Homo sapiens: one gene and its partners. The protein of the gene in region 1 interacts with the protein of each later gene in a pairwise test. Each region holds a gene or a part of one and is shown on either strand. Other genes may lie near its edges.

The links. Proteins that work in one complex are often made in the same cells at the same time.
Region 2: the proteins of ZNF250 (region 1) and CARD10 interact in binary tests that used the Homo sapiens proteins (3 or more experiments, as listed by UniProt).
Region 3: the proteins of ZNF250 (region 1) and APOBEC3C interact in binary tests that used the Homo sapiens proteins (3 or more experiments, as listed by UniProt).

The regions. Positions count from the first base shown.
Region 1 is NC_000008.11:144,884,252-144,891,703, reverse strand, and holds part of ZNF250 (zinc finger protein 250), read left to right. Parts: intron 1-1,300; 5' UTR 1,301-1,354; coding exon 1,355-1,396; intron 1,397-1,629; coding exon of another isoform or gene 1,630-1,644; coding exon 1,645-1,771; intron 1,772-2,009; coding exon 2,010-2,123; intron 2,124-4,801; coding exon 4,802-4,864; intron 4,865-7,452. UniProt on the Homo sapiens protein: May be involved in transcriptional regulation.
Region 2 is NC_000022.11:37,516,091-37,523,793, reverse strand, and holds the start of CARD10 (caspase recruitment domain-containing protein 10), read left to right. Parts: upstream 1-4,378; 5' UTR 4,379-4,593; coding exon 4,594-4,828; intron 4,829-5,685; coding exon 5,686-5,823; intron 5,824-7,495; coding exon 7,496-7,703. UniProt on the Homo sapiens protein: Scaffold protein that plays an important role in mediating the activation of NF-kappa-B via BCL10 or EGFR.
Region 3 is NC_000022.11:39,009,849-39,017,581, forward strand, and holds the start of APOBEC3C (DNA dC->dU-editing enzyme APOBEC-3C), read left to right. Parts: upstream 1-4,408; 5' UTR 4,409-4,514; coding exon 4,515-4,531; intron 4,532-5,746; coding exon 5,747-5,903; intron 5,904-7,733.

The DNA of each region.
Region 1 (7,452 bases):
ATTTTGTGTTTTTAGTAGAGACGGGGTTTCCCCATGTTGGTCATGGCTGGTCTCGAACTCCCAACCTCGGGTGATCCGCCTGCCTCGGCCTCCCAAAGTGCTGGGATTACAGGCATAAGCCACTGCACCCGGCCTGATTTTTGTATTTTTAGTAGAGACGGGGTTTCACCATGTTGGCCAGGCTGGTCTCAAACTCCTGACCTCCGGTGATGTGCCTGCCTCACCCTCCCAAAGTGCTGAGATTACAGGTATGAGCCACCGCGCCCACCTATATCTGATGTTTTATAGACACTGAGATTATGATGTCCCTTGACTTCTGCCCCCAGCCCTGACACCTATTTTGTCACTCTTAAAGCACCCTGTTTGTTGTGGTGCCCATCTGAGCCAAGCATGTGAGGGGATTGGTTGCTTTGTTATACCACGTTTTTCTGGAGTGATCTACCACCTTTGGTCACCTGGTTGGTTTCTGTATCCCTGTCACAGTATCTTCTTTTTGATGCTCCAGAAGACTGCGAACCCTATCCTGTACAGGACCAAATGTGTCAGGAAAGCTCTTGCCCCGCTCCCCCTTTTTCCCAGCTGTTTGGGTGTGTGTCAGATACCTTTGCTTACCTTGTCCTGTTACGTTCCAGCACCAGCCCCACTACCCCAAGCATCCCCTTCTCACTTGATGACAAGTCTTCCTTCAGCTGCTCAGACCAGATCCCTAGGCCACTGTTGACTCAGTTTGTCCAGAACTGACCACTTCCATGCCTCCCCTTCAAATACCTGGTTGAACCTGGTGCCACATTGGGGCACTAGGGCTGCCTAAGGGTGGGGTGAGGGGAGTCTTATTGTCACCCTGGTGGCCAAGGCTTTCTTAATTGGGAGGGTGTTTGGGGAAGCAGCTTGGCCTGATGCCTGTATCCCCCACATGACTTGCGGACAGTCTGGTACTTGTGTGAGGGCCTCAGGTATAGAACACACAGAGCCTTGGTGAGCTGGTATCCTTGTGTATGGCAGGACCATGGGCCGGGACCAGGGTGCAGCAAGTGCCTTGCACCTGGTGTTCAGAGAGCCCAGTACTAGCTGGGCAGGCCCAGGAACTGTGTGTTCAGGGCCTGGACAGGCTCCTGAACCATAGGGTCAGAGTTCATGGGGGAGGCAAGGCAGACCAAGGCTGCAACAGTAGCAGCTCCTTGCACCTGACCTCAGTGTGCCCCTCAGTGACTCTGAATGAGGCCCAGGGATCCCCTGAGGGCCCCCTAGGAAGTTACGGTCTCAAGGCCATGCCCCTCACTTGCCCCCTCCTCTTCCTCAGCCCCATAGGCTCCTTCAATTTCCGTGATCCTCGGAGTCCCCAGGAGACCAGGTGATGGCAGCAGCCAGACTCCTGCCAGTGCCGGCAGGACCCCAGGTAAGCTGTCCCCAGTGCTTATGCAGTGCCCCCAGCCCGAGCCCTGTGGTTCCTTCCGTGCCCCGTAGAGCTCCTAAGAGCAGCCAGAGCGTCACCACATGCCCTGAACTCCGCGGCCCCTTCCCATCACCCACCTCAGCTCACAGAGCCCCCCACTGCCAACTGCTCATGTCACATGTCACATGCACCCACTCCCCATCACAGACATCAGGATTTGGTTTTACCTGCAGCAGCCCCTGTCGTTCCAGGCCAAGCTGACCTTCGAGGATGTGGCTGTGCTCCTCTCCCAGGATGAATGGGACCGCCTGTGCCCTGCTCAGAGGGGTCTCTACAGAAATGTGATGATGGAAACCTATGGGAATGTAGTCTCATTGGGTAAGCCACCTTAGCAGGCCTCGTCTATGTATCTGCGTATTGGACTGGGGTGGGGGCTTCTCAGGGTACGGGGCCTGGGACAGGCTGGTCCTGGAGGTTTGCTCTCATCACCTCTCTGGGTGCTCAGCTCCAGCAGAAGATCAGTCCTGTCCATTTTCATGTCCCCACAAGTGGCTTGGGCAGGGGGAGGGGGCTCTGTAAATGTTGTGTAAACAAAGACTTCCCTCCCCACGAGCAGGACTTCCAGGATCCAAGCCTGACATAATCTCCCAGCTGGAGCGAGGGGAAGATCCCTGGGTCCTGGACAGGAAGGGGGCTAAGAAGAGCCAGGGCCTGTGGAGTGACTACTCAGGTGAGTGAGGAGAGCTGGCCCCTCCCTCACTGAGGGCTAAACAGGTCCTGAGCAAAGCTGTGGACCTAGTTCATACTGTGCCGCTCACTGGAGTGGCTTCCACCTGGAGTAAAACCTTATCTGGCCTTATCTGGCAAAGGAGTCTATAGACTGGGGGTTGCTGAATCAGGTGGCAGCCCATGGCTGGAAGTGAGCATAGCAGTGAATTTCAACAAGCTGATGTGCAGAGCCATGTAGAGGAAGTTAGGGCATGGCTGCAGTGATTCTGTCCCTGACCAGAGGGACTGGTTAGCCAGATTTGGTCCTAATAGGACATTCAGGTTTTGAGAGTTACCTGATGATTTAGAAAATAACAAAGCATCCTAAATGTGGAAAGGAAGTGTCTCAACCTGACACTTAAGGTGAAGTGCTGAAAGCACACTGTTTCATCTCAGAACAAGACAAAGAAGCCCGCCATCCCCATGTCCATATAATGTTGTACTGGGTATCCCATGTACAAAATAAGGCAAAACCGGCCAGGCGTGGTGGCTCAAGCCTGTAATACCAGCACTTTGGGAGACTGAGGCGGGTGGATCACGAGGTCAGGAGATCAAGACCATCCTGGCTAACACGGTGAAACCCTGTCTCTACTAAAAATACAAAAAATTAGCCGGGCATGGTGGCATGCACCTGTAGTCCCAGCTACTCGGGAGGCTGAGGCCTGTAGTCCCAGCTACTCCCAGATTCATGGCGTGAACCCGGGAGGCAGAGGTTGCAGTGAGCTGAGATCGCTCCACTGCACTCCAGCCTGGGGGACAGAGCATGAGACTCTGTCTCAAAAAAATAAAAATAAAAATAAGGCAAAACCAAAGCTATAAGAATTAGAAAGAAAAAAGCATTGTTTGCAGTTTATGTGATTGTCAACCTGGAAAATGATTGATTAAAATTCACAAGGGAAATTACCAGTTTTGCTGGATACAATTTTTTTTTTTTTTTTTTTTTTTTTGAGACAGTCTTGCTCTGTCGCCCAGGCTGGAATGCAGTGGCATGAGTCTCGGGTCACTGCAAGCTCCGCCGTCTGGGTTCAAGCAATTCTTACGCCTCAGCTTCTCGAATAGCTGGGATTACAGGTCCATGCCCCTATACCCAGCTAATTTTTGTATTTTTAGTAGAGACAGGATTTCACCATGTTGGCCAGGCTAGTCTCGAACTCCTGACCTGAAGTGATCCACCTGCCTCAGCCTCCCAAAGTGCTGGTATTACAGGCATGAGCCACTGCACCTGGCCAGAAATGTTTTATTTATATTTGTCAGCAACCAGCAAAGGTGTAATATTTTAAAAGATAACATTTATAATAGCATCAGGAATATAAAGCATCCAAGAATTAATCTAACAAAAGATGTACAAGACCTTTAGATGGAGAAAATTATAAAAAGAAAGATGGTGCATAGATCCAACCCTGAAGTTCATGTTTGCGGTTGCTTAAGGCAAAGAACCTCTGACTTCAGTAAGGTGACGTCTGAGTCTTAGGAAAACCTCAGTCAGCCTGTCCTGCCATAATGTGCCCCACTTGGGGAGAGTAGGGACAGTTTGGGCAACACCTCCATTGGCTGATCAGCTTCAGCATTTCAGATGTGGTGGTTTTCCCCTTGAAAGCTCCTCCTTATTTCTAAAGTAGCTTTATGTGGATAGGGCACCAGGTATTACAGTCTACCTCTTACTGGCCTGCAAAATCAGATATCCTCAGAGGAACAAGGTACATGCCAGCCTTAGAGGAATTTAATTTTCCAGTGACTATACAAGAAGACACATCATCATGTCTTGGAAATCTTGCATAGAACTTCTGCTTACTGACTGCAGCTGTAGGAGACAAGAAAACACAGGAGGGCATTTTGCTGCCACTGCCAAACCAGTCCTGGGCTCCCTTGTGTCCAGCTATGTACTCGCCTGATGGAGAGCTTAAACTGCCTTTGAGCGCCCTTTGATTTGACACCACAGAGACTGTGAAATTCTCTGGGAGCATGGCTGGTTGGAGATGAGAAGTTTTTTCATGGAAGCACCTGGTCCCCTCACCTCTAACACAGGCCACAGAGGACGATGGGACTGAGTTTTAGATTACTGATGTGCATAGAAACAGAAGCCACCTGCCACAACCTGGATCACTGCCACTAGCATCAGAGCAAGCGAGGAGTAGATATGCCTTTGTCTTGTCCTGGCAGTTCCTCAGGATGGATAAGTGTGTGCACCTGCCCAGCCCTGACCCTGCTGTTTGTAACTCAGTAAATTACATGTTGTAATAGCAACGAAAGGATTTTCCACTCTTTTTTTTTTTTTTTTTTTTTTTTTTTTGAGAGACGGAGTTTCACTCTGTCCCCCAGGCTGGAGTGCAGTAGTGTGATCTCGGCTCACTGCAACTTCTTGTCTCCGGGGTTCAAGCGATTCTCCTGCCTCAGCTTCCCTAGTAGTGGGGACTACAGGCATGCACCACCATGTCCAGCTAATTTTTGTATTTTTTAGTAGAGACGGGGTTTCACTATATGTTGGCCAGGCTGGTCTCAAACTTCTGACCTCAAGTGATCCACTCACCTTGGCCTCCCAAAGTGCTGGGATTACAGACGTGAGCCACCATGCCCGGCCAGGATTTTCCACTCTTGAAGGGAGTATTTTGTTGTCACTTCAACTCGCTGTTTTTTTTCCAGACAACCTCAAATATGACCACACTACAGCCTGTACACAACAAGACAGTTTATCTTGTCCATGGGGTAAGTGTATGCCTGATCTTTTTAATTCAGTACAATCTCTGAAGGTGTTAACACTAATGTTTTACAAGAATGTAGAGGCGACTCGGTGCTATGAAGCGTGTTAAACAACTCACACAATTGCTACAAAACACCAGGGAGGGGCTTTTTGTGTTTTTAATTTTTAAAACATTTTTCCTTTTCTTGTGAGCCATAGTAGGCCTAGAGAGATTACTGGGTTTTTATAATTAAACATTTATTTCGGTGAAATCATTTTGTTTCCTTTTATTTGTTCCGTCATGCTTAAAACATACTTCCCTACTTTATACTTAACAACCAAAACCATTATTCTAAAAGCAAGTGACTCTTGGCTGAAGTCCAGCTTCTGCACAGTATGGATGCAAGGTGCAGGCAAGTTTGGCCTTCACAGCAACTTGATTCTGTCTCACAAGCAGTCATATGATGCTTTCGTGCCATGGATGATTGAGCGAGTAGTCTCTTATGCAGTTAGTTTAGTGTGTGTGTGTGTTTTCTTTTTTTCAGGCTGGAGTGCAGTGTAGAGACAGAGTCTTGCTGTGTTGCCCAAGCTGGTCTCAAACTCCTGGGCTCAAGCAATCCTCCTGCCTCAGCCTCCCAACATGCTGGGATTACCGGCATGAGCCACTGTGCCTGGCCTGTGTTTTTATTATTAAAGACATCTTGTCTATCTTGTTACCCTGGCATCAGGTCAGAAGCCGCCCATTCAGGAAACTTTTTTTTTTTTTTTTTAGACAGGCTCTCACTCTGTTGCCCAGGCTGGAGTGCAGTGGCATAATCACGGCTCACCAGTCTCAACCTCCTGGACTCAAGCAATCCTCCCACAACAGCTTCCCGAGAGTAGCTATAACCACAGGTGTACACCACCATGCCCAGCTAATTTTTGTAGAGACGGGGTTTCACCATGTTGCGCAAGCTGGTCTCAAACTCCTGGCCTCAAGTGATCCTCCCACCTTGCCCTCCCGAAGTGCTGGGATTACAGACATGAGCCACCACACCGGGTGAAACTTCAGACAATAGAAGTAATACTTTTCAGTGTAAATGAGTAACTATTTCTTTAGCCTATAGGCTTTTATTCCATGAAGATGAGGCTTATACATTAAAAAAAGAAAGAACTAAAACTTCTATCAGTTTAAAAAACACATAGCCAGCTTAGGCAAGATACTGAGACCCCACACTACAAAATAAAATTAAAAATTAGCCAGACATGATGGTGCATTCCTGTAATCCCAGCCACATGGAGGCTGAGACAGGAGGATTCCTTGAGCCCAGGAGGTTGAGGTTGCAGTAAGCCATGATCACACCACTGCACTCCAGCCTGGGTGATAGAGTGAGACCCTGTCTCAAAAAAAAACCCACATAGAGTGACTTTCTAAAATGAGATATGTTAAAAATTGTATTAAACTGGGCCGGGGGTGGTGGCTCATGCCTGTAATCTCAGCACTTTGGGAGGCCGAGGCAGATGGACCACCTGAGGTCAGGAGTTTGAAACCAAGCTGGCCAACATGGTGAAACCCCATCTCTACTAAAAATACAAAAAATTATCTGGGCATGGTGGCACATGCCTGTAATCCCAGCTACTTGGGAGGCTGAGGCAGGAGAATCGCTTGAACCTGGGAGGCAGAGGTTGCGGTGAGCTGAGATCGTGCCATTGCACTCCAGCCTGGGCAACAAGAACGAAACTCTGTCTCAAAAAAATTGTATTAAACTGAAGACAGTGAATTTAAATTTTTTTATTAAAAAAACTGTTAAATTCTCACTGTTTCAATTTGTCAATACACTTAATAAATTCCTCTGAATAGAATAAAAAGACGCAGAATTACCCAAAAAGAAAAGTAGGCACAAATTTCTGCATAGATTAGGAAAACCAAAGGGCCAATAAATAAGAAAACTGCTCAGCCTCATTATTCATCAGTAAAGTGGAAATCAAAACCACTGTGACATGATGTTACACCTTCAGAATGGAAAAAATGGAAAGATCTGACAATATAACATGTGGGTGAGGATGCAGGGCAGCTAATAGGGATGTAAATTCACATAGCCACTTTGGAAAAGTTTGGCATTATCCAATGAAATTGAAAACATGATCACATTCTGAGAGAATGGAGGTAAAAAAAATGAAAAAAAAAATCGAAAACATGAATTCCTATGTTCACCACTTCCCACTCTTGCATATGTATACAGCAAGGACATTTGTGTGTAAGCACCAGGAAACATAGGAGAATCTTCACAGAAGCATGCTTCATGATTTAAAAAAACATTTGAAAAGAATTCAGGACCGGGCGCCGTGGCTCCTGCCTGTAATCCCAGCACTTTGGGAGGCCGAGGTGGGTAGATCACGAAGTCAGGAGTTTGAGGCCATCCTGGCCAACATGGTGAAACCCTGTCTCTACTGAAGATACAAAAAAATTAGCCAGCCATGGTGGCATGTGCCTGTAATCCCAGCCACTGGGGAGGCTGAGGCAGGAGAATCACTTCAACCCGGGAGGCAGAGGTTGCAGTGAGCCGAGCTCGTCCCATTGCACTCCAGCCTGGGCGACAGGGTAAGACTCCGTCTCTAAAAAAAGAATTATGTT
Region 2 (7,703 bases), on another chromosome or scaffold:
GGAGGCGAGATGGGGCTGGGGGTTGGGGTCAGGGAGCACAGATTCACCAGGCACCCAGACTTATGGACTAGATAACTCCAGACCCACATTCCTGGATGCAATCAGAGGCTGACAAAGAGGAACGGAAGGGTTGCTTGGGCCAGGGGCATCCTTGAAGGAATGAACAAAAAGGTGGATCCCTGCTTCTGTGGCCTTTGTGGCTGATTTGTGGAAGACAATGATAGCGGCGTATTACTACCAAGAAAAGTAAAGGCCAAAGTCCTCATAATGATCTTCAAGGCCTTTGCTCTGTCTGCCCCCCTTCCAATCCTCCTTCAACCTCCTCTCCTCCCCTGCTCCACTCCTCATCCTCACCACTCTTGGAACATTCCAGCTCACTCCTGCTAGCCAAGGACGGCTCTGTTCTTGGGATGGAAGTAGGCAACAAACAGGTTGCTGACATTTTCCTGGTGCAGCAAAGCAAGCACCAGGAAAATGTCAGATAGAGAGGAAATAGCTCTCGGGGCTCAGAAAGTGATACCTGCCAAATAAGGCGCTTTGATAGGCTGAATAAAGACGCAACCTCAAGGTCTCTCTGCCAACCTTTCCCCCATCCTCTCTGTCAATCCTCTGTCTCTCCCAAAGCACAGGAGGAGGCTGTTCTCCGAAGTTCCCTTATCTGCTAGAAACTGGACCCCAAAGAGGAACACGATTGCTTTCGATCCCTTCCCTGAAATTTCATTAACTGGAGATTAAAATTCATATCACAGAGGAAGAGAAAATTAAACACCACATCTAGAGTCCAGACAAACTTTGTCCCAAATGAGTGTTTCTTCTTCGGTCCCACTCAATTTCCAAAGAAAATCATCTGTAAGATAATGTCTGCCTCCCAGGCCCATTAATGCCTCCTAACAGTCATTCACTCCTACAGCCCCGTCTCCCCTTCCCCAGCGAAGAAGCGGATATAAACATCTGGACCTCAATGGATAACTGGGTAATCATTCTCCTATGATTCCCCTGTGCTAGGCATGTTAAATACATTTTTTATGCTTTTTTTCTTCTATTTATCTGCCTATTGTCAGTGCATTTCCGGCAAACCTCTAGAGGGAGAAGGAGAAGCTGTCCTTTGGCCCCTACGTAGCACAGAATTGCTTGGATGGGGTGTATGGAACTCCCTGCTGGAGGGTGCTCCTGAATCAAGGGAGGGGGAATTTGATCTGAGACCTGAAAAGCTAGAAGGAACCCTCCGTACCAGGAGTGGAGGGATGAGCAGTCCCAGCAGAGGCAACAGGGTGGACAAGGGCCTTGATGTGGAAGAAGCTGACAGGTTCCAAGAACAGAATGAGACTAGTGAGCGAGTGGGGCAGTGGGAAGTGGGAGGCGGGGGAGCCAGCAGGGTCTGGGGGCAGTTTGCATTTTATTCCAGTTTGGTGGAAACCATTAAGAGGTTTTAAGCCAGAGAAAAACCTGTTATGTTTTTAAAACCATCATTCTTTCCAGCTTAGGCAACGTGGCAAGACCCCTCTCTACCAAGGGTAAAAAAAGTAGCCGGGCATGGTGGTGCATATGTGCAGTCCCAGCTATGTGGGAGGCTGAGGCAGAAGGATTGCTTGAGCCCAGGAGTTCAAGGCTGCAGTGAGCTATGATTGGGCCGCTGCACCCTAGGCTGGGTGACAGAGCCAGACCTTGTCTAAGAAAAACCTCCCAAACCAAACAAACATCATTAAGGCTGCAGAGTGGAGAACATACCATAGCCCATAGCACTGTGGGTGGGAGTTTGTGGGGGCATGTGTGGCTTGGACCAGTGGGGCTACAGGCAGTAGGACGCAGACTGGTTTGAAACATGGAGGCATGCCTTTTGATGAGTTGGGAAGAGGACTGACATTCCTGTACCCACTTCACATATGGAGAGACTGCAACTCAGAGGCAGTCCCTGCACATGGGGGACTATTGTCCACTTTTCAGATGTAGAAGTTGAGAGGGGGAGGAATTTGTCCGAGTAGATGCAGCTAAGGCTGAATGTTGGTCTCCAGGGCACCCTCCACTCCTGGACTGTCTGCCTTTGTAGGTGTGGCTGGGACTACTCACCGCCTGCCTTTTGCAGACAGGGAAATGGAGACTCAAAGAAGAACAATACTCATAGCGGTGAGCCCGCGATAGAACCCAGGGCCCCTGGTACAAAGTCTAGATTCTCGGTGTCCCTGCTGTAGTCCCTGCCCGCCTTCCTGGCATAGCTATAGAGAGAAGATGAATGTAGCAGAACTCACAAGAGGACAATAATGAACATGGTACCTAATCACACGCTTGCACACTCGGTGCTATGGACGCCCGGGGACAGGGGAAAGATGAGGAGGCTCAGATGTTTGTGGGGAAGTGGGTACGCCCCTGTCTGCCTCCTGCCTGGCTTGATGCCCACAGTGGGTGGGTGTGTATGTGTGCATGTGTATGTGATGGTGCGTGTGCATGCCTGTATAATTGTACATGTGAATGTGGGAGTGTGGTACCCAAAGGAACTCTGTCGCTTCCCCTGGAATGCTGGGCACCAGGGGCACTCGGTGTACCCAGCTACCTGCCTGTTCAGACCCAGTGTGCCCTCACTTCTCTGTCCACTTATCTGCAGAGACCTCTTGGCTTCTGTGCCTTATCTTTAGGCCCTGCTTAGCTTCTCGATGAAAAAATAATTAACCATAGCCTCATTTTCCAAGGCGTCCATCCCGCTCTGCTGGCCAAGTTAAAAATATTCACGAGGAGTAGGGCTGCTGGTGGGAGGAGCTGCCGCTCTGCGTGGGAGGGCAACCAAGGCCACAGAGAGGGGAAGGACGTATTGAAAGGGAGGTCTGGTGTGTGCCTGGACTCGGGGCTTGGAGAGGACAGAGGCCAGGGGCTGGGCTCCGGCCTATTCCCATTGTGGCCTCGCTGTGTGAATTTGGGCAAGTTCCTTGCCCTCTCTGAGCTCTGCTTCCTCCTTTGTTAATTGAGGAATTTGCACTAGAATTCAGTTCTCCCAAAGCATTTCTTCTGCATGTAAACAGGTGACACCCAAAACAAAAACAAATGTACAACAAATGCAAACCAAAAAAAGGCTGTGGTTAATTAAGTTTGGAAAAGGACACCAGGATATATAAAGTTAAATCTGTTTCTTTACTGCTGGGGCTTTTTTTTTTTTTTTTTTTTTTTTTGAGGGGGAGTCTCATTCTGTTGCCCGGGCTGCTGGAGTGCAGTGGCACGATATCACTGCAACCTCCGCCTCCTGGGTTCAAGCGATTCTCGTGCCTCAGCCTCCCGAGTAGCTGGGATTACAGACGCGCACTACCACGTCTAGCTAATTTTTATATTTTTAGTAGAGATGGGGTTTCGCCATATTGGTCAGGCTGGTCTCGAACTCCTGACCTCAGGTGATCCACTCGCCTCGGTCTCCCAAAGTGTCGGGATTCCAGGCATGAGCCACCGCCCCCGGCCTTAATTTAAGCAGGGCTTTTCAGAGCCTTTATTGATTGAAACCTTAATTCTTTGGATAAGTAATACATATGTCCACGGCATCTAATTCAGAAGTTGTGGAAGGCGATTAGGGAGCTCACACCTCTTTCCTGTACCGGTTGTGCCTCCTCTGTTCCTCCCTGGCAGCAGGTACCTGGCAGCTTCTAATGCATAGCGAGACTGTATCGCATGCACCAGCAGATACCGTGTAGACTCGGCCAGTATCATGGTAAGACACCACCGGCCTCCCAGGCAGGAGCGGGAGTATGGATGGCTAGTCACAGCCCGCCCCCAGCATCTCTGGGACCAACACCTGGAGGAATACCCTTTGAGAATTGTGGGGTCCCTGGTCCTCAAGTGCCACGGGAGTTTGCGTAAGAGGGGAGTTGGCAGTGCTGCCCTGCAGGTTCAGACCCCCATCTTGCAGAAAGCCCCCATGACCTCTGCCCATTGCTGTCCCCCGCGGGGCTGTCCTGCGCTCCAGGGAAGCTCCCGCGCCCGCAGTGCATGTGGGGACCCGAGAAGGGCAAGCCCAGCTTGAGTGCCCGCGGGCTGCGCCGGGCGTGAGCGGCTAGCCCCGCACGGGCGGGCGCGCTGTGGGCGTGGGGAGGCGATGCGCGTGGCCCGGGGAAGGTGTGTCGCGGCGCGCGGGGGGTGTGAGCGCGCCTGCCCGCCCCCGCCCCGCCCAGAGGCCGGGCAGGTGTGGGCGGGCGGCCAGGACCCCGCCGAGCCGGGCTGGAGAGCCGGCGGGAAACAGGAAGCAGGGGGAGGCGCAGCCGGACGGCCGGGAGGGAGGGCGTGCAGACGGACGCGCGGGGTGGCCGGGGGCCGGACGCACGACCCGGGGCGGGCGGCAATGTGGGGAGGCCCGGGCAGCCCAGGAGGCTGCGGGGACGGGGGCGGAGCCGGGGGCGCCACGGGCACCGCCCCCCTGCGCCGGCGGAGCCGCCGCCCGAGTGCGGACCCGGGAGCCCGAGGCGACTGTAGCGTGCGGGGTGAGTCGCGGGGAGCTCGGGGCGCGCCCCCGACGGCGGGTCTGCGGACGACGCCCCGGGGGTGCTTGGCCGCACATCTAGCCCTAGGGAGCCCTGGTCGACCCCCGTGCGCCTCTTGCCCGCAGACCCTGAGGACACGGCCATGCCGGGCCGGGCGGAGGCGGGGGAGGCCGAGGAGGAGGCCGGGGCCGGCTCGGGGTCTGAGGCGGAGGAGGACGCGCTGTGGGAGCGAATCGAGGGCGTCCGGCATCGGCTGGCTCGCGCCCTGAACCCGGCCAAGCTCACGCCGTATCTGCGCCAGTGCCGGGTCATCGACGAGCAGGACGAGGAGGAGGTGCTGAGCACCTACCGCTTCCCGTGCCGCGTCAACCGCACCGGTGAGCCGCGGGTCCCGAGTGGGCCACGACCTGGGCCGGCCGTGCCCTGGGGCGCAGCGCCCACAGCCGTGTAGCGCGAAGCTAGGGCTCTGCTGCCCTGGGGCTCGGTCTCCGCATCAGTAGAGTGGGCCGGCTGGGTATGCCCACCAGCCTGCCTCCTCCCCACCCACCACTGCGCCTTGGCGGTCCGCGTTGCCCACACCGGGGTCAGAGTTTTGTCTCTTGGGGTTCTCTCCCACTTCCTGGGTCCACATTAGAGCAGAAGGTTGGATGTGGCTGCCAGGGCCGGCTGGGCCTGGGACCTCCCGGTCACAGCCGGTGGACTTGGCACCTTTCCTGCGCTCTTTGATCTCCGAGTTCTGTCTGTCCCCTCCTCTGTGCACCATACACTCCTGGGGGAGTCCTTTTTCAAGTGTCAAGATCCGTCTCAGCTTTACGTGGGTCCCCACTCCCACAGGGTGTGCCTTTGAACCAGAACTCAAAAAGGCATGATGGAATGGTCTTTAATGGTGGAATTTCAGGCATGGCCAATGGGAGAAGTATTTTCTTTGCTTCTGGGGATAGAGGGGGCTTCTCTGTGCCATTGAAAAGGCAGGCTGCATTTGCGGGCCGGCATCTGTGTCTGTGGGGGGTGTTGGGGAGCTCTGGGAGCCCAGGAGTCATGAGGGAATGTGCTCCCCTGGCTGTGGCAGAATGGCTCTCTTCTCTTCCCTGATGTGTTGGGACAGGCCCCTGTGTGTGTCACTGGCTCAAAAATCTGGGGAACGTGGGCCTGGAGCATGGTGGGGGCAGAAGCAACCAGGCACCTGGGGAGGCCTTCCCCTAGACCCTGGGTACATCCCCCCACTACTCTGTAGGGCGCCTGATGGACATCTTGCGCTGCCGTGGCAAGAGGGGCTATGAGGCCTTCCTGGAAGCCCTGGAGTTCTACTACCCCGAACACTTCACGCTGCTCACGGGCCAGGAACCCGCCCAGCGCTGCTCCATGATCCTCGGTGAGTGGATCTGCGGTGGATGCTGGCACCTCGGACTCCAGTGCACAGGCTCCTTTCCCCATCCCTGTTAGGGAGGCGCTCCCACTATGCCTGTTGAACAGTAAGGGAAACTGAGGCATGGAGAGGCTGAAGGGGCTTGCCCAGGGCCCCACGGTAGGCTGAGGGTGGGGCTGGGTGCTAGTGCCGTTATTCCAAGTTCAGAGCCACATGCTTAAGATGGCTCTTTCTTCGTGATACTGTTTTCAGACATATGTCTGACATACACAGATGTATAGTTTTTTATGTAAAAAAATACAGAGGCTCCAGGTGACTTTGAATTTTTTTTTTTTTGAGACAGTGTCTTGCTCTGTCACCAGGCTGGAGTGCAGTGGCGCGATCTCAGCTCACTGCAACCTCCGCCTCCCAGGTTCAAGCGATTCTCCTGCCTCAGCCTCCCGAGTAGCTGGGATTACAGGCATGGGCCACCACGCCCTGCTAATTTTTGTATTTTTATTTTTAATAGAGATGGGGTTTCATCATGTTGGCCAGGATGGTCTTGATTTCCTGACCTTGTGATCCGCCTGCCTCGGCCTCCCAGAGTGCTGGGATTACAGGCGTGAGCCACTGCGCCTAGCTGAATTTTTTTATATAAAAAACACAAACACATACACACACGCACACACGCCTACGTGTGTATTTTGCTTTTTCTTAGAACAACTGATTTTAGTGATTCTTTCACCTCTGTTACATACACTTGTTTTAAGTGACTGCATACTGTTCATTAGTGAAGTTAGGACATAATTCATTTAACCCATTTCCAGTTGATGGATACCTAGGTTTCCAGTTTTGTATTATTACAACGATACGGGAACATCCTTGTATGTGCGTCTTTGTGCAAATGTGTCTCAGGCGAAGAGGTTCTGAGAAGAATTTCTCAAAGAGTCTGTGTATTTTAACTGTTAAATCAACATACCTCCTACCAGGAATGTGTAAGGGCCCATTTGAATCCTGGGGATCATGTTTAAACGTTTTTACCATTCTGATATGTAAAAAATAATGTTATTGTTTTAAGTTTATATTTCATTGAGTGATACAGTTCACAGGTTACTAGTTATTAAACCTTGGGTAAATAACTGCTCTGTGCTTCAGTTTTTCTGTCTTTAAGATGGGTACAATAATAGTACCTACCTTACAGTGTTGTCATAAAGATTAAGATATATCTAGCACAAAGAATGAAGTTAACAAATATTAGTAGCTACTGTAATTATTGTTGATAGGTTGGTGCATATTTTCCTGTATTTATTAACTATTTTTATTTTGGGACTTGCCTATTGATAGTTTTTGTCCATATTTTTATTTGGTTGTTGATCTTATTGATTTGTAGGAGCTCTTTATATATTACGGCTCTGAGTTCTTGTTATATTTTCTCCCACTCTGTTGCTTATTAACTTTGTTACATCTTTCATTTTTCAAAGGTTTAAACATTTTTATATGGATTTGTCCATCTTTTTTCTCTTATAACTCCTGGATTTTGTGTGTTGTTTAGGAAGACCTCCCCTGCTCCCAATTCTACAAATATATTCCAGAATTTCCCTCTAGTGTTTTTATGGTTTGAGTTTTTTGACACAGTATGTTATCTCCTGGATTTTACTTGCCTGAGCTGCCTATTCTGTCCCCTGTTCTGTCCTGGCAGATGAGGAGGGGCCTGAGGGCCTGACCCAATTCTTGATGACAGAGGTGCGACGGCTGCGGGAAGCTCGCAAGAGCCAGCTGCAGCGGGAGCAGCAACTGCAGGCCCGGGGCCGGGTGCTCGAGGAGGAGCGGGCAGGGCTGGAGCAGCGGCTGCGGGACCAGCAGCAGGCTCAGGAGCGCTGTCAACGGCTGCGGGAGGACTGGGAGGC
Region 3 (7,733 bases), on another chromosome or scaffold:
TCATTCTTGTTGCCCAGGCTTGAGTGCAATGGCGCGATCTTGGCTCACCACAACCTCTGTCTCCCGGGTTCAAGTGATTCTCCTGCCTCGGCCTCCCGAGTAGCTGGGATTACATGGTGGCATGCACCACCACACCTGGCTAATTTTGTATTCTTTTTTAGTAGAGACGGGGTTTCTCCATGTTGGTCAGGATGGTCTCTAACTCCTGACCTTAGGAGATCCCCTTGCCTCAGCCTCCCAAAGTGCTGGGATTACAGGCGTGAGCCACCACACATGGCTTATTTTTTAAATTTTTTCAGATGGAGTCTCACTCTGTGGCCCAGGCTGGAGTACAGTGGTGAGATCTCCGCTCACTGCAACGTCCACTTCCCAGGTTCCAGCTATTCTCCTGCTTCAGCCTTCCAGGTAGGTGGGACTACAGGTGCATGCCACCATGCCTGGCTAATTTTGTAATTTTTTTTTTTTTTAGTCATGACGGGGTTTCACCATGTTGGTCAGGCTGGTCTTGATCTCCTGACCTCAGGTGATCTGCCCGCCTCAGCCTCCCAAAGTGCTGGTATTATAGGTATGAGCCACGGCAATCAGCCATATATATACCTTTTGCAAATAAAATTACACAGGTGGAAAACGTTTTTCTTTTTCTTTTTTTTTTGAGACAGGGTCTCACTCTGTCGCCCAGGCTGGTGTGCGGTGATGCAATCATGGCTCAAGTGATCCTCCCCCATCAACCTCCCTAGTAGCTGGAATTACAGGTGCACACCACATCTGGCTAATTTTGTTTTTGTTTTTGTTTTTGTAGACACGGGGTTTCACCATGTTGCCCAGGCTGATCTCGAACTCCTGACCTCAAGTCATCCGTCCGCCTCGGCCTCCCACAGTGCTGGGATTACTGGTGTGAACCACCACACCCGGCCCGAAAAGGTTTTCAAAATAATAAAATGGGCTGGGCAAGTGGCTCATGCCTGCAATTAGAGGCCTGGAGACATTAAGTAAACCACCCAAGGTCACACAGTAAGGAAGGGGCAGAACTCAGAGTCTCCTGGCTGCAAAGCTGGTGTCCCTTCCCCACTGTGCCTTAACTGCCGCCTTACAGCTGGGTTGGAGGATGCCTCCCTGGTCTAGGGTCATTATTACATTTTCTTCTAAGAAGTGTGTTTCTGATCAACGGAACTGATTATTTTCCATCTATGGTCTTACCCTTTGCCCCCATCTCTTTCTTATGGCAACAGAAAATTTCACCTTCAAGAGGAGCGCCTCGGCCCGGCCGAAGTACCGTCTGGGAAGTGAGGAGCGCCTCGGCCCGGCCGAAGTACCGTCTGGGAAGTGAGGAGCACCTCTGGACGGCCACGGAGCAACCCTCCAGGTGTGAAGTGGCAGCCCTGTGTGTGATCTTTCTGCCCTCCCCGAGTTTTCATTTTCGATAGTAAAATTTACTTGTAAACTAAAAGATTTATATTGGGGAAGATGAAAGGAAGGAAGGAAGGAAACTTCACTTTCCAAAAACAACCACTGGGAGTCCGCTTTGTGCAGCGATAGGTAAGCTTCTGTGCAGGAACGGGCGCTGCTGCACCCCCTACCACCCACGCAGCCTCCTCCCTATCTGCCTTCAGGTGGTAGCCAGAGGAGTTCAGAGCCTCTACAGAGAGCACAACTTCTCCAGCTGGAACTGAAGGGGGCCTGCCCCTCCACACCGGCGGGTATTTCTCGAAAGGTGGAGATGAGAGACTGAGAAAAGAAATAAGACACAGAGACAAAGTATACAGGAAGAAAAGTGGGCCCAGGGGACCGGCGCTCAGCATATGGAGGACCCGCATGGGCACTGGTCTCTGAGTTCCCTCAGTATTTATTGATCACTATCTCTACCATCTCAGCGAGGGGGATGTGGCAGGACTATAGGGTAATGGTGAGGAGAGGGTCAGCAGGAAAACATGAGAGCAAAGGACTTTGTGTCATAAATAAGTTTAAGGAAAGGTGCCGTGCCTGGATGTGCACGTAGGCCAGATTTATGTTTGACTTTATACAAACATCTCAGTGCAGTAAAGAGCAGTATTGCCGCCAGCATGTCTCACCTCCAGCCATAAGGCGGTCTTCTCCTATGTCAGTAAATAGAATGTATGATCGGGTTTTACACCAAGACATTCCATTCCCAGGGATGAGCAGGAGACAGATGCCTTCCTCCTATCTCAACTGCAAAGAGGCTTTCCTCCTTCACCAATCCTCCTCAGCACAGACCCTTTACGGGTGTCGGGCTGGGGGACGGTCAGGTCTTTCCCTTCCCATGAGGCCATATCTCAGGCTGTCTCAGTGGGGGGAAACCTGGACAATACCCAGGCTTTCTTGGGCAGAGGTCCCTGCGGCCTTCCGCAGTGCACTGTGTCTCTGGGTACTCGAGACTGGAGAATGGCGATGACTTTTACCAAGCTTATTGCCTGCAAACACATTTTTACCAAGGCACATCCTGCACAGCCCTAAATCCATTAAACCTTGAGTCAATATAGCACATGTTTCTGCGAGCACAGGGTTGGGGCTAGGGTTACAGATTCACAGCATCTCAAGGCAGAAGAGTTTTTCTTAGTACAGATCACAATGGAGTTTCTTATGTCTTCCTCTTTCTACATAGACACAATAACAGTCTCATCTCTCTTTCTTTCCCCCACAAGAACAAACTCCCCTTAAAGGAATCTATTTAGGAAGATTATTTCAAGGATACAATGTACATTCATTCCTCCAAAATATGCTTAGATGAACTTAAATAATCAGAAAGTTGTGTGTGTATGTGTTTCACATTTTCTTGGTCCACACGGAACCCCTTGAGAGGTCCCTGTGGGCCGTGAGCCTGTTTGTAGACACTTGCTTCCACCGCTTGATGTCGCAGACATCGCAGTCCCTGATGTAGGGTCTGGCCCTATGGGGCTTAGTGGGTGTTCTCCCCGTGTGTGGAGATGAGAAATCGTAAAAAGTAAAGACACAAGACAAAGAGATAAAGCGAAAACAGCTGGGCCCGGGGGACCACTACCATCAAGACACGGAGATGGGTAGTGGCCCCAAATGGTTGCGTGCACTGTTATTTATTGCATACAAGACAAGGGGGGCAGGGTAAGGAGGGTGAGTCGTCCAAGTGATTGATAAGGTCGAGCAAGTCACGTGATCATAGGACAGGGGGCCCTTCCCTTATAGGTAGCCGAAGCAGAGAGGGAAGGCAGTATACGTCAGCGTTTTCTTCTATGCACCTATCAGAAAGATCAAAGACTTTAAGACTTTCACTATTTCTTCTACCGCTATCTTCTGAGAACTTCAAAGAGGGACCAGGAGTACAGGAGGAAAGTGGACAAGGAGCGTGACCATTGAAGCACAGCATCACAGGGAGGGGTTTAGGCCTCCGGATGGCTGCAGGCAGGCCTGGATACTATCCAGCCTCCCACAAGAAGCTGGTGGAGCTGAGCGTTCCCTGACTCCTCCAAGAAAAGGGAGACTCCCTTTCGTGGTCCGCTAAGTAACGATGCCTTCCTAGGCACTGGCGTTACCGCCTGACCAAGGAGCCCTCCAGTAGCCCTTATGCGGGTGTGACAGAGGGCTCACCTCTTGCATTCTCGGTCACTTCTCACAACAGCCCTTCAGCACCTGACCCTATACCCACCGGTTATTTCTTGGTTATATTAGTAATACAATAAAGAGTAATATTAAAAGCTAATGATTAATAATATCTACACTAATGATTGATAATGTCCATGATCATCTCTGTATCTAATTTGTATTATAACTATTCTTATTGTAAGTATATTCTTTATTATACTGAAACAGTTTGTGCCTTCAGTCTCTTGCCTCAGCACCTAGGTAATCCTCCGCCCACATCTCTGAGGGGCTGAACTGCCCCCCACCTTCTGGAAGCTGGGAGGTTGGAAGAGGGGATGCGTGCGATGGACTCAGCACACAGCTGGGAACTCGAGGCACACCTAAGCCTTCGCTTGTGCTGTGCGGAGTCCACACTTCCTTCCCCACTGGGGTCTCAAAACCTCCCCTCACTCAACAGGGTGGTGCTGCTCAAAGCTCTGGGCACACATTAGGGCTGGGGAGGGGGTGGTGGAGAGGGGGCTCCAGCCTGCCCAACCACCAGGCAACGGGGCACCTGCCCCTCTCTCAGCTGGGTCTGGACCCGCGTCCCAGGCTCAGGCTGCAATGCCTTTCTCTTTCTCTTTCTCTTCTTTTTGCAGTTCCGTTGGGTCCTGCCCAGGACAGATAAAGACAGAGCAGCCTGTCTTTATCGGAGGTTCCTCTGCCAGTAGGAGGGGCCCGGAGAAAACCAGAAAGAGGGCCAGAGCCAGAGAAACATGAAGCACCCCGGGGCCTCCCACACCAGTGCCTGAGCAGGAATGGGGAGGGGCCATGATTCACAAGGCCCTGGGAGGTCACTTTAAAGAGGGCTGCTCAACTGCAAGGACGCTGTAAGCAGGAAGAGAAGCCACAGCGCTTCAGAAAAGAGTGGGACAGGGACAAGCATATCTAAGAGGCTGAACATGAATCCACAGATCAGGTACCTCTGCACGCTTTGTCCGCCAGGCCCCTCCTGCCACTTCCTGCCAGGCGGTCCTGCTGGGCCTCAGCCCTGGCCTCCCCCTGCCCCAGCCCCACCTCTGGGCTCCCTCCCCCCTGGTTCCCCCGCTGCCCCCACTCCCAGCCAAGCTCCTTGCCCTGCTGTGTGGTCCCACGACTGCTGCTTCTGAATGGGCCACCTTCCCCACTTGCCCCAGCCCAGTCCGCCTGCTGAGACTCTCCCCCGAAAATCATGCCCGGGCTGGTGCTTCCCGCCCTGGGAGGGTGCTTCCTCTGTGTGCTTCCCACTATTCCTGGGAGCTCTGGAACTGGGAGAATTGAACCAAAGGATGATTTGAGCAATCAGGCATTTTGTTCTCAGCGCTTTGGTGCAATTTCTGTAAGATTTACTTTGTTTCAATACAAAGTCTTAGGAGAGGGTGTGGGGGAGGGAATGGTCTCTGTACCAGAAAATAAGTCACTTCTTCCAAAGATGCCTCCACTGTGAGCAGAGTAGGATGCACACGACCCCAGACACAGGCTCCTCCTCTGTGAGCACCGTTCACCTTTCAGAATGACACCTGCAACATGGAGTGTAGGAAAAAATATGATGATCAGGAGAAATGCTCTTATTTTAGGCCAGGCACGGTGGCTTATGCCTGTAATCCTAGCACTTTGGGAGGCTGAGGCGGGCGGGTCACTTGTGGTCAGGAGTTTGAGACCAGCCTGACTAACATGGTGAAACCTCGTCTCTACTGAAAATACAGAAAATTAGCCAGGGGTGCTGGCGGGCGTCTGTAATCCCAGCTACTTGGGAGGCTGAGGCAGGAGAATCCCTTGAACCCGAGGGGTGGAGGTTGCAGTGAGCTGAGATTGCAAACTCCAGCCTGGGGGACAGAGCGAGATGCCGTCTTTAAAAAAAAAAAAAAAAAAGTAGCAGAAAAACTGGGAGGTTGAGGGTGTTCCATTGGTAGCCCCAGAGCTGGGGTTCCAGCTAGGAGAGGTCACCCCGGCCCTGCTGCCCCTGCCAGCGTCCCCTCCTCTTTCTCTCTCCCCGTCTTCCTGCCTGGGAAAGCAGCAGACATTCTCAGGGCTGTGGAGGGATGGGGGAGGCCCAGAGCCCAGGGACGTCCAGGCAGCTGTGTTCAGTGGGCATCAGCCCTGAGGACTCCGGTGCGGGGGTCTCTGCATTGGGGTTTCTCTCTTGTGCCTTCAGAAACCCGATGAAGGCAATGTATCCAGGCACATTCTACTTCCAATTTAAAAACCTATGGGAAGCCAACGATCGGAACGAAACTTGGCTGTGCTTCACCGTGGAAGGTATAAAGCGCCGCTCAGTTGTCTCCTGGAAGACGGGCGTCTTCCGAAACCAGGTAGCACCAAAGTCCTAGTTACACCCTAAATAGGAGCTAAGCAGCTGGGAATGCAGAAAACGCAACAATAAGTGATGTGCCCGGCGTGGGCTCTCCTGTGTGCACTTTCCTGCCACATTTCTATTTTTTTTTTTTTTTTTTTGAGATGGAGTCTCGCTCTGTCACCCAGGCTGGAATGCAGTGGTCTGATTTCAGCTCACGGCAACCTCTGCTTTCCAGGTTCACGCGATTCTCCTGCCTCAGTCTCCCGAGTAGCTGGGATTACAGGCACCTGCCACCATGCCCAGCCAATTCTTTTGTATTTTTAGTAGAAACAGGATTTTGCCATGTTGGCCAGGCTGGTTTCGAACTCCTGACCTCAAGTGATCCACCAGCCTTGGCCTCCCAAAGTGCTAGGATTACATGCGTGAGACACCATGCCCCTGGCCTCCTCCCCACATTATTTATTTATTTATTTATTTATTTTGAGACGGAGTCTTGCTCTATCGCCCAGGCTGGAGTGCAGTGGCACAATCTCAGCTCACTGCAAGCTCCGCCTCCCGGGTTCACGCCATTCTCCTGCCTCAGCCTCCCAAGTAGCTGGGACTACAGGCGCCCACCACCATGCCCAGCTAATTTTTTCTTTTTTTCTTTTTTTTTTTTTTTTTAGTAGAGACGGGGTTTCATGGTGTTAGCCAAGATGGTCTCGATCTCCTGACCTCATGATCCGCCCGCCTTGGCCTCCCAAAGTGCTGGGATTACAGGCATGAGCCACTGTGCCCGGCCTCCCCACATTTTTTAAGTCCATGGCCCAGATCTTCCTCCCTGACTCTCCTGTGATCAGATCGTGGAGGGGGTTTGCTTCCTCCCAAAAGGCCTTGTTTAGCGCCCAGCACCCTCACTCTTGACTTTGTTTCCCAAAATCTTGTTATGGAGCTGTGCGTCCGGCAGTCCTCGGGAATCAGCAGCTGTGGGAAGCGGGGGGTGTTGTGTCCAGCGCTGTGTCTGGGCCAGTGACTGCGGGCTGGTGGGGCCGCCCCCGCCACTGCCCTGATTCCTCAGCAGAAGGCAGGCAGGGAACAAAGCTGACCCCAGAGAGCCAGGCCATAGCAGGGGCTGAGGATGCCTGGTGAATGGATGCCTGGGAGAAAAGATGGCAGAATTCACACATGAGTCTATGAGACAGGGAAAGAATCAATAAAATAAAGAAGGAAGGGGCCGGGCACGGCGCGGTGGCTCATGCCTGTAATCCCAGCACTTTGGGAGGCTGAGGCAGGCGGATCATGAGGTTGGGAGTTCGAGACCAGCCTGGCTAACATGATGAAACCCAGTCTCTACTAAAAATACAAAGATTAGCCAGGTGTGGGGGTGCATGCCTGTAGTCCCAGCTACTCAGGAGGCTGAGGCAGGAGAATTGCTTGAACCTGGGAGGCAGAGGTTGCAGTGAGCCGAGATTGTGCCACTGCACTCCAGCCTTGGCGACAGAGCAAGACTCCATCTTTGAAAAAAATAAAAATAAAAGAATAAAGAGAGAAGGAGAAGGATAGAAGAAGGGAAACTCAATGAATAAAACACCCTGGGGCCTACTATGTAGCCAGAAAAATGAAAAGTAAAGAAATAAAATAAGGCTGTGCATGTGGTTTATGCTCATAGTCCCAGAGCTTTGGGAGGGTGAGGCAGGAGGATCGCTTGAGCCCAAGAGTTCAAGATCAGCCTGGGCAACATGGTGAAACCCCGTCTCTAAAAAAATTATTTAAAAAATTAGGCAGGTGTGGCGGCATGCACCTGCATCCCAGCTTATCAGGAGGCTGAGGTGGGAAGATTCCTTGAGCCTGGGAGGTCAAGGCTGCA